2 separate regions of the Homo sapiens genome follow, and region 2 is linked to region 1. Evidence: fine-mapped expression QTL. Tissue or cell type: whole blood. Region 1 holds a variant in brackets; the other region holds the start of a gene. All regions are shown on one strand. Distances are between the middles of the regions.

What was found. PIP is the estimated chance that this variant, and not a neighbour inherited with it, causes the effect.
Region 2: SLC2A6 starts here. The variant in region 1 is fine-mapped to the expression of SLC2A6 in whole blood (INTERVAL, PIP above 0.99).

Annotation. Positions count from the first base shown.
Region 1 is chr9:132,669,716-132,677,972 of GRCh38, forward strand. DDX31 (DEAD-box helicase 31) reads right to left here and starts at 268. Exons shown (of 20, transcript NM_022779.9): 1 at 145-268. The coding sequence starts at 219. GTF3C4 (general transcription factor IIIC subunit 4) reads left to right here and starts at 749. Exons shown (of 5, transcript NM_012204.4): 1 at 749-1,240. The coding sequence starts at 884. RefSeq lists enhancers at 125-992, 678-757, 3,852-3,901 and silencers at 338-487, 908-1,037. The variant T/TGACC (reference allele first, on the strand shown) is at 3,798.
Region 2 is chr9:133,475,915-133,483,914 of GRCh38, forward strand. It overlaps SLC2A6 (solute carrier family 2 member 6), which reads right to left and starts at 3,185. Exons shown (of 10, transcript NM_017585.4): 1 at 3,054-3,185; 2 at 2,340-2,502; 3 at 1,121-1,327; 4 at 323-422. The coding sequence starts at 3,145. RefSeq lists enhancers at 2,715-2,774, 3,195-3,696 and a silencer at 2,935-3,584.

The DNA.
Region 1 (8,257 bases):
CTTGTCCCGAAGCTGCCCGGTGTCTTTCTCCCGCTTAACTCCGTGAATGACTCGAAACCCGACTCCAAGGCACGGCTGCAGCTCGCGGCGCGCCCACAGCCGGGCCGCGGGTGGGGACGGAGCTGAAGCCGGGTCAGAACTCACCCGACTCGCCTGGGCTGGGGGACGTCTGGAGAACGTCCTGGGGTTGTCGAAGAGCGAACCGTCGGCGGCTGCCATGGTCTGCGTGGGTGACGCGTGGTGCAGCAGCGAGCCCGGTGCGCAGACTGCTGGGCCCGGGACCCCACGTGGGACGCGCGAGGACCCTGCGCCACCGCCCCTTCCGGGTCCGGAACGGCTCCAGCTGTACGGACTCGTCCCGAGGGGAGCCGGGGACGGCGGCACCGGGCGGGTAGGGACAAGACTACCGCGCGTGCCCCCGCCTGGTGGCAGCCCCTCTCTGCGTCCCTCGCGGCCTGGCAAAATTACATTCGGCCGAGAGTTCACGCTGGGGAAGCTCTCTGAATGCCTCTGAGAAGCGAGATCCGGCGCCATCTCACCGACGAGCCTCCCCTTTACCGCCCCGTGCGTTTCCTCAGCACTTTAGGAACTAAAGCCTGTCTGGGTAGCTCCCTAACAGGCTCTGGAGCTCAATCCCTGGGCAGGGAAAAGGGGGTCCTCGGGGCTCCCCGCTCGCTGTCCTTTTTCTGGACAGGCAGTTCCTTGGCCACCTGGTAGGGCCGCGTTGCCTGGCAACGGCGGGGTCCTTCTTGGCTCGGCGGCGCTCGGGGCCTGAGGGGAGAAAACCGCCGCGGAGGGCGCTGGGGGTGGCGGCGGCGGTCCGGGAGGTGGTCGCGCGACTGCGTGGAGCGCCAGGGCGTCCGACCTCTGCACCTGAGAGAAGATGAACACGGCCGACCAGGCCCGGGTGGGGCCCGCGGACGACGGGCCTGCGCCGTCTGGGGAGGAGGAGGGAGAGGGGGGCGGCGAGGCGGGCGGGAAGGAGCCAGCAGCGGACGCGGCCCCGGGGCCCAGCGCTGCATTCCGCCTCATGGTGACTCGGCGGGAGCCGGCCGTGAAGCTGCAGTATGCGGTGAGCGGCCTGGAACCGCTGGCTTGGTCCGAGGACCACCGCGTGTCTGTGTCCACGGCCCGCAGCATCGCTGTGCTGGAGCTCATCTGCGACGTGCACAACCCGGGCCAGGACCTGGTTATCCACCGCACCTCGGTGCCCGCACCGCTCAACAGCTGTCTCCTCAAAGTAAGTCATCCCCCGCCATCCCTGGGGTCTTCCCCTGTCCCCCTCTCGCGGCCGCATCATCCGTCCCAGGGGAATCCGATCCCACACTCTGTCCGGGGATTTCCCTCTTCGCACCGAGCGCTGGGGATTTATTAAGCAGCCAGGGTTACCACAGCTTAAAAAAAAAAAAAGAAAAGCTCTGCAGCTGTCTGCACCCTGTTTCCCCAGGTCACCCGCCGCCGCAAACACAGGTACACACCCAGGGGGCTTCCCGGAGTTGAGTCCCAGGAACCCCTCCTTCGCCCCTCCGTCGGGCCCGCACATGGAGCGGGTTACTCGATGGTGCTTTCTGAGACTCCACCCCCTGTAGATCCAACCCGGGGCCTGCCTCTGTCGTTGCTGCTATTGTTTGGGGCCGACTTTCCGAGGTTCTTGGCTGGCTTTGTCTACTGTGTGTGTCCTCCTCTCGCGCCTCTTTAGCTTCAGAAAAGAAAAACTGGTCCCATCCATTGTCTTAATTGTTTCAGTGACTTTATTATGAATGGTCCTCGCCTCTCCTTGGGCAAACGGGTAAATACTGGATCTCGGGGTTTGTACTTTAGTTTTTCTTTACTAGCTAAACATCTTTGGGATGTTGAATGAAAATAAAGATTCGAAACAACTACCTATCTTAAACTTCAAGCGCAAGGTCAAGTAGTAAGCCATAGCGTTCCTTTTAGTTGCTTAGAGGTGTAAAAACTTTCCATATATCCTTGATAGAGGTGTACGCTTACATGTGAACTGTCAGTGTATATTCATACATTCAATAGATATTTGAATACCATTCTGCTTGGTGCTGCCCCATGTTCTGGAAATAAAGCAGTGTACAAAACAGAACCCCTGCCCTCATGAAGCTTACATTCTTTGGCAAGTCAAGCACAAATGATAAGGTCCTGTCAGGTAGTGATAAGCACTGTAAAGATGTGTATCCGCACATAGAGAACATGTTTATGTGTTCGTAAACTCTTATTTTGGAAAACCATTGAAAATATGAGTCATTAGCTATAGGTAGGGTGCAGATAACCCTCATCACTTTGTAGCATACTTAATTCAAGTTTCAAACATCTTTCTGTTGTTAGATTGTTAGTCAGCTTGTATGACTAAGCTTCCTCTAAGATCTTCTTGAAGAAGATATGAACACATTTGTTCAAGTGTAAACAAATCAGATAGACAGATGCAACCCTATGAAATTGAGAAATACAAAAGGAGGGAGGCAGAAGAAAGGTGATTTAAAAGGTGTATCTTCTGCTGTAAAGGAATTTAACTGTTTCCAAGGATGTTCATCCGCACAGCAACTCAAGGAAAGTATGTATGTCAGTATAGTAGACATCGAATACCTTAGCAGAGAGAATGTAAAGAAAGGAGGGAGTAGTAAGGGGAGAGACTTATGGGGCAGGTCATCTGGTGGTGAATCTGCAGCAGTCCTAAAGAAGGTAGTGTTTGGTTTGTAAGAGGAAGGAAGGAAAGGGCATTCCAGGCGGCAGGAATGAGGCATTCATCCCATGTGCATACACGTTTAAGTCATGAACATAATTAATTATTGTTTGTATAATGACGGATCAGTACATGAGCTCAAGTAGGTCTTCTAGAGAGTCCGAGAAAGTAAGATGAGACCAGTTTGTGGACTTGGAAGGTCGGTATGAGGAAGTTGGCTTCAATCTAGGAAGTCTTTAAGATGCTGTTACAGTTTCATTAGCATAGAGTGACCTGCTGTGGTTCAGGAACATTACTGGATAGAGGCAAGAAGATGATTGTTGTGATCAGTGTAAAATAAAAGTGAAGAGACTGGGCTTTGGCACAAGATAGGCCTATCTATAAAAGGGGGATAATGAAGCGTTGTTTAGGTTTTTTGGAAGATTAAACACACATAATCACTTGGCCCAGTTCTTGGCACGCTGTAAATGCTCAAGGTGAAAATATAATGAGTTGGGCCGGGCGCGGTGGCTCACGCCTGTAATCCCAGCACTTTGGGAGGCCGAGGCGAGCGGATCACGAGGTCAGGAGATCGAGACCATCCTGGCTAACACAGTGAAACCCCGTTTCTACTAAAAATACAAAAAATTAGCCGGGCGTGGTGGCGGGCGCCTGTAGTCCTAGCTACTGGGAGGCTGAGGCAGGAGAATGGCGTGAATCCGGGAGGCGGAGCTTGCTATGAGCCAAGATTGCGCCACTGTACTCCAGCCTGGGCGACAGAGCCAGACTCCGTCTCAAAAAAAAAGAAAGAAAATATAATGCAGTTATACAGGTATGAAGGAGTAGGAGTCTGGATTAATGTCGTGGTTGTGGACATGAGTATTCTGATAAAATTTTGACTGTCATTTTGCCTCAGTTAACATTTACCACAACTGCTAACTAGTAACAGGAAATCCTTATATAGCTCTCTTATAGTTGACAAATGGCTTCTATGAAATTAATTAGTAACATCTTCCCCTTCTGTACTGTTGTTTTTTTTTTAATATGCACATCACATAAACCATCAGTCATTTAGCAGTCTTTTTAGACTGATTGAAGTGAATGAATGCTGAGTTGACCCTGCAGT[T/TGACC]CTACAAGAGCCCTCTGTGGGTTAAAACTGGTGTGACGGTAGGAATGTAAAGAAGTCTGTGTCAGCACTTTGATGACTCCACCCATTGGCAGTCTGTGGATTTAAATCTGCTCGGTGCCGTGCAGCATGCCTTCGCGCTAACCTAAATGGTGGACAGTCTGCAGCGCAGATGACAGTTTTAGTGTAGCACTGTTAGAAAGCTAGGTACTAAACACCTTTGAAGCTTTTGCTCTATAATTCTGTTATTTAGATTATGAATTTGCAGGAAAATCTGCAGTTATGTAATAGTTCAGACATTAATTATCAGCTGTTTTATAAGATTGTATGATATAAAGGTGGACAGTATAAATCTGAAAAGCAATGAAATAGTGATTTAAGAATGTCAGAATTGTTTTTCCCATTGGACTACTGATTTAGTGACTCATCTAGTGAGACATTTGTGTATAGTTCCAAATTCTGATAATATTTGTGTACCGAATTGTATTGTGCATCAATTGTTAGGAGCCTTAGAAAGTATTAACTTCATCTGCTACATTAAGTTAAATAACTGTTGCCTGTCTTTGGACTCTATTACCTGTCCTCAAGAAGCTTACTGTCTAAAAGCTTCAAGTGAATTTTTGTCAGGTGCTTACAAAATGCCTAACAGTTAGTATTAAAAGTATTTGCCATTAAAAGTGATGGTGAAAACCGCAATTACTTTTGCACCAACCTAATAGTGGTCAACTGGAAACTGGATGGTGTACAATTAAATGATTGGCTGCGGGCAGGCCTCTGGGAGCTGGACTTTTTAAGTATACTCCTTGGGCATCTGAATACTTGATTTGTTAACAGTTTTGTGATAGGGAGAGTTGGAGGGAGGTTCAGTAGTCTAGTTGAAACATATGTCAGAAATTGCTACACAAAACCCTAAGACTTTTTCCTACCAGTCAAGATCTGTACTGCTCTCCATCCTGTCAAGAATTCTTCCCACAATGAGTAGGACCAAGGGTTGCTTAAGCTTCCTTTATTTCATCCCGTGCTGCTGCTTTGGGTTACCAATCCTGTGAGTTTACTTCTACAGTAGCTTTTATTTGTAGCAAATTTAACCTATTCTAAGGAGTATTGCTTAGTTCACAGTATTAAAGGATTTGATGAACAATTTTATATCTACCTTTCATTTGGTACACAACTTTATGTCTACCTTGCATTTTTGCATACTTTTATTAGCATTAAATATCTTATTAACATTTACTTAAGGCTGAGTGCTGTGGCTCACACCTGTAATCCCAACACTTTGGAAGGCCAAGGCCGGAGGATCGCTTGAGCCCAGGAGTTAAAGACCAGCCTGGGCAACAGAGAGAGACCGCATCTCTACAAAAAATTTTAAAAATTAGCCAGGCATGGTGGTGTGCACCTGTGGTCCTAGCTACTCAGGAGGCTGAGGTGAAAGGATCACTTGACCCCGGGAGGTTGAGGCGGCAGTGAGCTGTAGTCACGCCAGCTGCACTGCAGCCAGGGTGACAGAGAGGAATCTCAAAAGTTTTTTTTTTAACTTAGTCCTCAGAGTATATTAACAATTATCATAGGTAACTTTATTGAGCGCTTAATATATGCTTTGATATATTGACTTATTTAACCTTCCTAACTTTCTGGGACATGTATTAGTCTCATTTATAAATGAGGAAATTAAGGTCAGAAGGTTTAAGCAATTTGCGCACACAGAGCTGGTATGTAGCAGAGCCAGCATTTGAACCCAGGTAGTCTGGCGTCATAGCACAGATTTTCAGTTATTATGTTGTGCTTCATTATGTCATCTCACAAATTTCATCTGCCTGTAGAAAGCACCGGGCTTTGATTAGCATTGTTTTATTTCCAAGCCAGCCACCTACACCTCATTTAATTGGCATTTTCAGTCTATGATTCTCCAGCAAGTTTCATAGTGTATCCAAGAGACTACTTTAAAATGCCTTCCTAAAATCAAGATACACTGCCTAAAACACCATTCCCAAAGTATTCCACATACTTTTGGATAATAAAGGGTAATAACTGCCTCCCTCACCTCCAAAAAAAAGGCTCTGTTGTTTAAAAAGGCAAAAAAGTTTGGCTTCCTGTGGCTCAGTAGGTCTTTATAGTAGTTCCCTGGCCGAGGCATTTAGTGTCCTCGTGTCACTTTTCAAGGGAGAACGACATATAAATATAGTATTTCCAAAGCTTGTTTGGCCATAGAACTATTTTTCAAGGGACAATTAAAGGGAGTAGTGTACTGTGAAACACACTGTAGGAAAAGTTAGTTCTCTATTTTGTGGACAATTTTCTATTTACATTTCATTTTATTTGCTTATCTATTATGTCATCTAGCAATTTTAGCAGAAAAGAGAATAAGAATAGACTATTCCAGTTACCCTTTTTTTTTTTTTTTTTTTTTGAGATGGAGTTTTGCTCTGTTGCCCAGGCTGGAGTGCAGTGGTGCCATCTTGGCTCACTGCAGGCTCCACCTCCCGGGTTCATGCCATTCTCCTTCCTCAGCCTCCTGAGTCGCTGGGACTACAGGCACCCACCACCATGCCCGGCTAATTTTTTTGTATTTTTAGTAGAGACGGAGTTTCACCGTGTTAGCCAGGATGGTCTCGATCTCCTGACCTCATGATCCGCCCACCTCAGCCTCCCAAAGTGCTGGGATTACAGGCGTGAGCCACCACGCCCAGCCATCCTTTGCTTGTTTCTAATCATCACTCCTGTCTGCACAAACTATTCATTTGTTAATACATTGAGGAATTTTCTGTTAGGCTTAATGGTCTGTAGTTTTTGTTATTTATGTACCATTTGGGGGATTTTTTTTTTTTTTTTTGCAAAGCCTGGCTCCATCACCCAGGCTGGAGTGCAGTGGCGCAATCTCGGCTCACTTCAACCTCTGCCTCCCAGATTCAAGCAGTTCTCCTGCCTCAGCCTCCCAAGTAGCTGGGGTTATGGGTGCCCACCACCACGCCTGGCTAATTTTTTGCTATTTTTAGTAGAGATGGGGCCTCACTATGTTGCCCAGGCTGGTCTCAAACTCCTGGTCTCCAGTGATCCACCTACCTCGGCCTCCCAAAGTGCTGGGAGTACAGGTGTGAGCCACCATGCCCAGCCATGGGGGATATTTTTTAACTCTTTGTTGCACTCTGATTTTCTGATACATCCCCAGTTGTCCAGACTTCATCTAGGATGTAGTAAGTGGTTCTGAGTTAATGTCTTCCAAGTGCTTTCTGTGTCCTGGAGGGTAATTCCTCTAGGCTTGAACATTTAAACTCATTCAAGTGACTTTTATTATATCCATGTGTGTCTTAGGCTGGAATTTCCTTTTAATCATGTTCTACCCTTTCCAGTTTAAAGAGCAGCCTCTTTGAAAAAGGAAATTGACACTAAAAAATAATTGAAGCATTCTTTTTCTTTTACCCATTTCTCTAAAGACAGTGGATAAAGTCCTTCCTTCTTCCTGCTTTCAACATAACAAAACATCTTTTGGCTAGTCTCTGCTCTTTTTGGCTTTAGCTTTCCTATTTTTTTATGGTTCTGAACCACTTTCTTTTGGTCATTTATCTCTTCCTCCATCTTTGATGTCCCTTTAAAATCTTATTAAAGAGCTCACAGCTGGGCACGGTGGCTCACACCTGTAATCCCAGCACTTTGGGAGGCCGAGGCAGGTGGATCACTTGAGGTCAGGAGTTCAAGACCAGCCTGACCAACATGGTGAAACCCTGTCTCTACTAAAAATACAAAAATTAGCTGGGTGTGGTGGTGCACGCTTGTAATCCCAGCCACTTGGGAGGCTAAGGCAGGATAATCACTTGAACCCTGGAGGTGGGGTTTGCGGTGAGCCGAGATTGTGCCACTGCACTCCAGCCCGGGCGACAGAATGAGACTCTGTCTTACTGTCCCATACATGTTACGAACTTGGAGGAGGGAGAGATGAATGAAAGCTTGAATGACCTCAAAAGGCCTTATAGGGAGAATTAGATCTGGTAGGATAGATGGGATTTACATAGGGAGAAGAACTAGGCAAGGGAGCCGGGGAAAGCTGAGGTGGGAATGTTCAGGAATGGCAACTAGAATAGTCTGATTAGAGTGAACATTATTCTATAGAAACAGTAAACAAAGCAGTTGGAGTTGGCTCTCGCCATTATTTGTCAATGAAATTTCAGATAAAGGACCTAAAGCTGGCATTTGTATTGCAAAGATGTTGTAAAAATCTAAATATCAATTTGTATCAAAGATATATATAGATACATATTTTCATAAATTTGTTAACACCTTTTTTGTTTTGTGACTAGTTCAGGTAAATGCTCTGTTGAATCTTAAGAATCAAGTACATCTCTCTTGCATATATTAATTCTAAGAAGAATATGGGAACCAGGCTATGAATAATGACATTCTGACTTATTTTAAAAAATTGCCATCTCCTTGAGTAAATGCTCATCTGATAGTTTTTATATCTCTTATTT
Region 2 (8,000 bases), 810 kb after region 1:
CTGTGATTTCTTTTCTATCTGGACTTCCCATCTGAGATGGCATTTGATGGAAGCTTTCTGCCGTTAAAAGATAGTCTGGCGACTGTGGGTCCAGGAGAAGCCCTGGCTGCCCCAGCTAGAGACTGGGCCTGTGGCTAGAGGGGCAGGCCCTGCCTGGAGGTGCCCAGCAAGGTGCTGACTGAGTGGGGCCGGGATGCCAGATCTCTTGCCTCTCAGCCCAGGATCTGTTCTGGGACAAATCATTCCCTTTCCACCCACGTCTACCTTGGCGGCACCCACCCCTCCCACCAGCCTGCACACAGGAGTGCGGGGCCATACTTGCCAAGGGCGTAGAGGGACAGGGATCCGAACACTGCCATGAGCTGGGGTGTGGCCCCCAGAGCCCCACGAACGCCTGGGGGAGCAATCTCAGACACGTACACCTGCAAGACACAGCCGCCGCACCAGGTTTTGCTGAAAATACTGGTTCCTAGGCCCGGCCGAGATGGGAGAGTCAGCCCCTGTGAACCCCGGAAAGTGGGAAGTGGAGGCTTTCTGGTGGGGCTGAGTCCTGGTCATGACTCACTGCAAGACCTTGGGCGGCCTGCCTGATCTCTCTCTGTCCTCAGTTTCCCTAACTGTGACGTGGGTGGAAGTACGCAGCTCGGAAATGGGCAGCATGACGCTGGGAAGGAGGCCCGAGGGCTCCCAGGCTTCAGGGCTGAGCAGGTGAGTCCATGCCTCCCAGTGAGTTTTGTCTCCTCTGCTGGGCTCACCACCAGGCCCCGTGTGGAGTACCACATAAGATAAGAAGGTCCCGGGGAGGGTGTAGGGCAGGGACTTCCCTCTCCTACCCATTGCTCAATGCGGATTTTCTCCAATTGAGTAATACATCTGACCGGTCAAGAAACGGGGTAGAAGGCTTGGAAAGTCCAGAGTGGGGGCAGCTGGGGACCTGGAGACAATTTCCCCCAAATTAGCTGCCCTGCTGGGGGTGAGCTGAGGCGCCCTGGGCATCCGCAGGGAAGGCAAACAATTCTCATTGCCCAGAAGGCATGGAGGCTGGGAGGCCTTAGTCAGATGGAGGCTCAGCACCAATACAGAGGCATTGGGGCGCCTGGGTGGGAAGGCCTGGCCTTACCGGGATGCAGGCAGCTGTGAGCCCCCCGGCGAAGCCCGTCAGCGTCCTTCCGAGCAGCAGCATCCAGAGGCCGTGCGCACCCGCCATGAGCGCATAGCCGGCCGCCGACGGCACAGCTGAGAACATGATGCTCAGCTTCCGGCCCAGGAGGTCGTTGAGGATCATGGCACTCAGGCCTCCGGCCGCTGCTCCCAGGGTGAACACGGACTGCAGGGGAAGGGGGTGCAGGGCAGATATGTCTGGGCACTTGGCACCCCAATCTCATCAGAGTCCAGGGACAGCTTCTTCCCTAGGCCGACCCCAGGAGCTGGTCAAGCACTTGGCCAAGTCAAGCACTTGAAACAGGGAGCCTCCTGTCTTCAAGGAACAGCCATTTGTTAGGGATGCCCAAACGGGGAATTCTGCTCTAAGGAAGAGGTGCTGCGCCACATATCCACAGTGGTTCTGTCCAGCCTGATGTTTAAATGTCTAATATTTTAATACAGGAGAATTCTGTGACTTGAAGGTACTGGGCTTTAAGATTTGGAGGTTCTTAAGTTCCCTGTACAGCAGCAACTGGGACCCCCTCTGGACTCTGCTAACTGGTAGTGGGACCTGGGCACATTGCCCAGCCTGTCTGCACCTCAGTTTCTTCAGCTGTCTTATGGGGAGAGCGCAAGTTCTACCTCGTGGCGTTGGCCCTGAGAATCAATGAACGTTCAGTGCCCAACACATGCCTGGCACATAGGAAGTGCTCAGTAAACCTTGGGAATTTTTATCTTAACTACTATGTTAACAACTCTACATATGAGGCTATTAAGATTATAATTTTAGACTCTGGGACTCTGGGATCTTCCTCTCCATCAGCCCACAATCTGTCCTGCGGACTCTCCTTGCCCCAGCCAGTGCCTCTCCCCACTGACACCTGATACCCTTGCCCCCATCCAGCCAACTGTGGGTGTGGGGACCCGGGGAAGCCTCAGCCCCACCTAGTATAGACCCTGACAGCCACCTCCCCACCTGCTCCTTCCCTCACCCTCTCCACTGGCTTTCAGTTCCTCATTTCAGAGGAATCCTGTAGCTTTACCCCACCCACTAGTGGCCTGGATGGCTGGGGGAGGGGGGACCAGGGCCCTGGAGGGACCCCCAAGGTGGAGAATTTGGGAGGTTCCTAGCTGGAGATAAGGCTCAGCAGGTCCCTCCTTCCTGCACCCACCCTCCTCCAGAGGATGGTCCTTACCCCAAACCAGGATGCCTGGGATTTGGTCAGATGCAGGTCAGGATCCAAGGAGCGCTCCAGGGCTGGGATGACAGGGGATGTGTAGACCAGGGCATACCCAAAGCTGAAATTGCCGAGCACTGCGGCGAAGGTGGCCAGGAACACCCTTTTGTTCTGCAGGGTCCTGGTGATGGTGGCGGACAAAAAGACCAGGGTCTCTGAGTCCCTCCTCCAGGGACCATTGCCTTTTCTGAACCCAGTGGCTGCCCGGCTCAGCGGGCAGTGCTAGGGAGGCCTGGGTCCAAGGCCATTCACGTTCCCAGGGCCTGAGCCCCAGCTCCCCTGGGAAATTCCCAGGCCATTGTTAGCTCATCCGCAGTGGCTGAGCCTCTGGTGCTGGGGCCTTTTCTCCGGAAGAGGAGGCTCTGGTTCTGCCCCCAGGGCGGCGGCTGGAGGCTTGCTGTGTGACCTCAGGCAGAACCCCTGCTCGCTGGGGCCTCAGTCTCACTGTCTGTGGCAGTGGGGGGCTGGGCCCGGTACTCTCGTGGATCGTTCCTTCCCTTAGGGGGACCAGTTCCTTAAATAGGAGTAGCGTGTCTGGGACAGGAGGGAGCCAGATGGCCCCTCGGTGGCGACTAGGTCAGGGGAGGCCCAGGGCGGGAGCCTGCCGCCGGCTGGAGGGAACCAGGGCCACCCCCAGGCCCCACCCGCAGCCCCCAACCTAGCGACTCTCACCCGACCCGCGCCCTGTCCCCTGGCGACGGGGGCGGCTTCTCGGGGAAGGTGTCGTAGTCCGGGCCCTCGGCTCCCAGCAGCGGCTCCTGCATGGCCGGGTCTCTCTCGGGGCGAGCGGAGGGCGCTCAGACTGGAGCAGCCGCCCGGGGCCAGCAGCTCCGAGGGCACCGGCCAGGCTCCGCCCCTTGGCCGCTATTGGCTGTGGGACGGCCCTGCAGAGACACGCCGGCCAATGGGGCGGCCGCAGGCTGTCCTGATGCTCGGATGCGGACCCGGCTTCCCCGGGCGCGGCCGGCACCGCGTGCGCCCCCGAAGGTCACGCCCCAAGACAGGATGGGGGTCCCAGGGCGGAGCCCCTGCTGGATCGTCCGGGGCCCCCGCGGAGCGCCGGAAGCGGCTCACCCGGCCCGGCTCTTGCAGGCGTGACTGCGGCAATGCGCGCAGCCCCTGTCGTACTCGCTCCCGCGGGGTGGAAACCGAGGCCCAGAGAGGCGAAGCCGAGCGCCAGGGTCACAGCGAATGCGCACCTCGCTCCTCCTTACGCTCTAGCCCTCCCCGTCGCGTGGCGTCTCAGGGCCACCTCTGCCCTGGCTCTCCCTGGCACCAGGGAATCGGGGTGTGTCAGGGCAGCAGCGGATGTGCGGGACGAAGGAGGCAGGAGGGGCCGGCGAGGCGCTGTGGGCAGCTCCAGTGGGCGAGGTCTGTATCCTCCACCCCAGGCTCTGGTGGTAGAAATAACCTGAGCTCGTGACACGTAACCCAGGTAGTAAGATAACATTGAAAAATAAGAAAAGCAGAAATGGAAAATTCCCGGGAAGACCGTCCTCAAAAAATCCCACAGCAGTTCCACCTCTCCCTTTGGGCCTTTTCGGGAAGAGGACGGAATCACGCCCTGCTCTGTTGGATGGACGTGCCACACACGCTTTTAAACGGAGCCTTTGTTGCTGAGTATTTGGGTCATTTCCCATTTTAGCTATTAACATGGTAAAGCATTTTTAAAAGTTAGAATTCCCTTTTATTATGATTGAAATACAACCATAATAGAACAATAAAATCACATCCATCTCCCGTCAGCCTGACCTTGATGGCGTTTTAGCCTCTTCCAGTCTTTTCCTCATGTGCCTATTTTGCATATTTGCTATTGGGGCCCCCATTAAACTGTGCAGCCCCTTTACGTCACCGTTTTCTTGCCATCAAGATCATAGGCTTTGGACTCAGGCACACCCTGGTATGGTGATCAGGCTGCACAGTCCTCGTGGCCATATATATACGTATATACATATATATGTGTATGTATTTTTACATATCTATATGTGTATTTTTTTTTTTTTTTTTGAGACGGAGTCTCGCTCTGTTGGCCAGGCTGGAGTGCAGTGGCACGATCTCAGCTTACTGCAACTTCCACCTCCCGAGTTCAAGCGATTCTCCTGCCTCAGCCTCCCAAGTAGCTGGGATTACAGGCATGTGCCACCACGCCCGGCTAATTTTTGTATTTTTAGTGGAGACGGGGTTTCACCATGTTGGCCAGCTTGGTCTTGAACTCCTGACCTTGTGATCCTTCCGCTTCAGCCTCACAAAGTGCTGGGATTACAGGCGTGAGTCACCGCACCCGGCCTTCTCTTTTTTTAAAATGTATTTTTTTTCTTTTAAAATCAACTTTAGGCCAGGTGCAGTGGTGTGTGCCTGTAATCCCAGCATTTAGGAGGCCAAGGTAGGAGAATTGCTTGATGCCAGGAGTCTGACACCAGCCTGGGCAACAAAGTGACCCTGTCTCTACAAAAAGCTAAAAAAGTTGTCCAGGTGTGATGGCAAGTGCCTGTGGCCCCAGCTACTCGGAAGGCAGAGGTGGGAAGATTGCTTGAGCCCAGGAGTTTGAGGCTGCGGTGAGCTGTGATCACACCACAGCACTCCAGCCTGGGTGACAGAGGGAGAGCCTTCTTGAAAAAATAAAATACAAGAAAAATCAACTTTGTTAAGCTATAATTTATATACAGTAAAATGAATCCATTTTAAATATAGGTTGATGAGTTTTGACAATTGTATAACCCCAAACACCCCCAATCAAGATATAAAACATTTCCACCTTTTCTTTCTTTCTTTTATCTTTTTTTGAGACAGAGTCTCTCTCTGTTGCCCAGGCTGGAGTGCAGTAGTGCGATCTCGGCTCACTGCAACCTCCGACCACTGGGTTCAAGCGATTCTCCTGCCTCAGCCTCCCGAGTAGCTGGGATTACAGGCGCCCGCCACCACACCTGGGTAGTTTTTGCATTTTTGGTAGAGATGGGGTTTCACCATGTTGGCCAGGCTGGTCTCAAACTCCCAACATCAGGTGATCCTCCCGCCTTGGCCTCCCAAAGTGCTGGGATTACAGGCGTGAGTCATCACGCCCAGCCCATTTCCACCCTTCTAGAAGGTTTCTTTGTGCCTTTCTGAGGTCAACCTCCTTTCCCTGCTCCCCAGTAAACTATTTTTTTTTTTGAGAGGGAGTTTCACTCTGTCCCCCAGGCTGGAGTGCAGTGGTGCGATCTCGGCTCACTGCAAGCTCCGCCTCCCAGGTTCATGCCATTCTCCTGCCTCAGCCTCCTGAGTAGCTGGGACCACAGGTGCCCGCCACCATGCCCGGCTAATATTTTTTTGTATTTTTAGTAGAGATGGGGTTTCACCATGTTAGCCAGGATGGTCTTGATCTCCTGACCTCGTGATCTGCCGGCCTCGGCCTCCCAAAGGGCTGGGATTACAGGCATGAGCCACCGCGCCCGGCCTCCCCAGTAAACTATTAATCTGCTTCCTGTGACGATAGATTACAGTGGTCTTATAAAGAGAACCTATGTGAAGCACTGTTTTTTTGTCTGCCTTCTTTTTTCAGCATGTTTATGAAATTTATCAGTGGTTTGCTGATGTTCAGTGGTTTGTTCTTATTTGCAGCCGCGTAGTGTAGTGTTTTACGGATGTAGCACAGTTTTTGGCTAAAAGAATGAGCCGGTGTGAGCCTTCTTGCACAGAACCCTGCTTAACAGCCTTTTTTTTTTTTTTTTGAGATGAGTCTCGCCCTTTCCCCCAGGCTGGAGTGCAGTGGTGCCATCTCAGCTTACTGCAAGCTCCACCTCCTGGGTTCACGCCATTCTCCTGCCTCAGCCTCCTGAGTAGCTGGGACTACAGGCGCCTGCCACCACGCCCAGCTAATTTTTTGTATTTTTAGTAGAGACGGGGTTTCACCGTGTTAGCCAGGGTGGTCTCCATCTCCTGACCTCGTGATCCGCCCGCCTCGGCCTCCCAAAGTGCTGGGATTACAGGCATGAGCCACTGCACCCGGCCCTGTTTCACAGCCTTTTAATGTTAAAGGCTGGGTGGATGAGCTTGAATTTGTAATGAATCTTCTGTCATGGGCATCAAAGCTGTTTCAAACTGTAAGGGTAGAAAAGGTGGAATCCGTTTCCTCACCCATTGTTACAAGACCAGCAGATCCACATGCCTGCTCCACCGTGACACCACGACACACCAGTACACCGTGCAGCAGGGTTCGCAGCAGGGAAGAGTTTAATGATTGCAGGGCTCTGAGCAAGGAGATGGGAGGAGATCCTCAAATCCATCTCCCCTAGGAGCTTTGGGCTGGGGCTTTTAAGGGGATCATGGAGGGCGATGGGCTTTAGAAGTGGGTTGTTGATAGGTCTGGGGATGGGAGGTAAAATCATCAGGAGGTGGAAAATGTATTCTTTGGTGAATCAGGTCCTCCTGGGGTCCTTGAGACCAGCTGTCATCAGTAGTTTCTTTCTTTTTTTTTTTTTGAGACAGAGTCTCACTCTGTCACCCAGGCTGGAGTGCAGTGGTATGGTCTCCACTCACTGCAACCTTCACCTTCTGGGTTCAAGCGATTCTCCCACCTCAGCCTCCAGAGTAGCTGGGAGTACAGATGCATGTCACCACACCTGGCTGATTTTTGTATTTTTAGTAGAGATGGGTTTTCACTATGTTGGCCAGGCTGGTCTCGAACTTCTGACCTCGTGATCTGCATGCCTCAGCCTCCCAAAGTGCTGGGATTACAGGCGTGAGCCACCGCGCCCGGCCGGTGTCAGTAGTTTCATTGGTACACAGGACCCAAAAGAACATCTCAAATGGAAACTTTTGACTGGGCGCCTGGCCAACATGGTGAAACCCTGCCTCTACTAAAAATACAAAGAATTAGCCAGGCATGGTGGCGTGAGCCTGTAATCCCAGCTGCTTGGGAGGCTGAGGCGAGAGAATCACATGAATCTAGGAGTGGAGGTTGCAGTGAGCCGAGATCGTGCGGTTGCACTTCAGCCTGGGCAATCAGAGCAAAACTCTGTCTCAAAAAAAAAAAAGGAAAAGGACATCTTTGCAATGTTAAAGTTGTTATCTATATCTACAGGGCAGTGAGGGAGAGCTACAATCTTGTAACAGAGTCTCTGTGATTCTAAGGCAACAGGCACCAAAAAACTTTGAGGTCAGAGAGCAAGTTGACCTAGCGATGGATGCTGAATGTGCTACAAGCCTGGTTTATTCTCATTTCTCCTCCTCTCTTCTTCCTTGATTAATTTTATAAAGTTTATAGGGATGGTCTCATCATCATCAGGGCCATGGGTGACAGTTCTATAACAAAAGACAGGTTCACAAGAGAAAAGCACACCAGATTTATTTAATCAAAGCTTTATGTGACAGGGAGGTGTCAGAAGTGGAGACTCAGAGACCCAGGGAAGATGGTCCCTGTGCTTAGAGTTGGTGGAGAACAGGCAGCCGTGTGGACAGGTGTCGGACGGCAGGGGATGCCTGTGGGGATGGACTGCGAGGCTGGCGAGGCCAGCTGTGCAGATCCCCCTTGGCCTCTCTGTGCAGTGCTTCTCCCCCCAGGGATGGGGTAGAACCCCCGGAGGGAGGGTCTTTTACGACCCACAGTCAGACAAGGTGGGCATGGCCAGCTCTTCCCCAGAA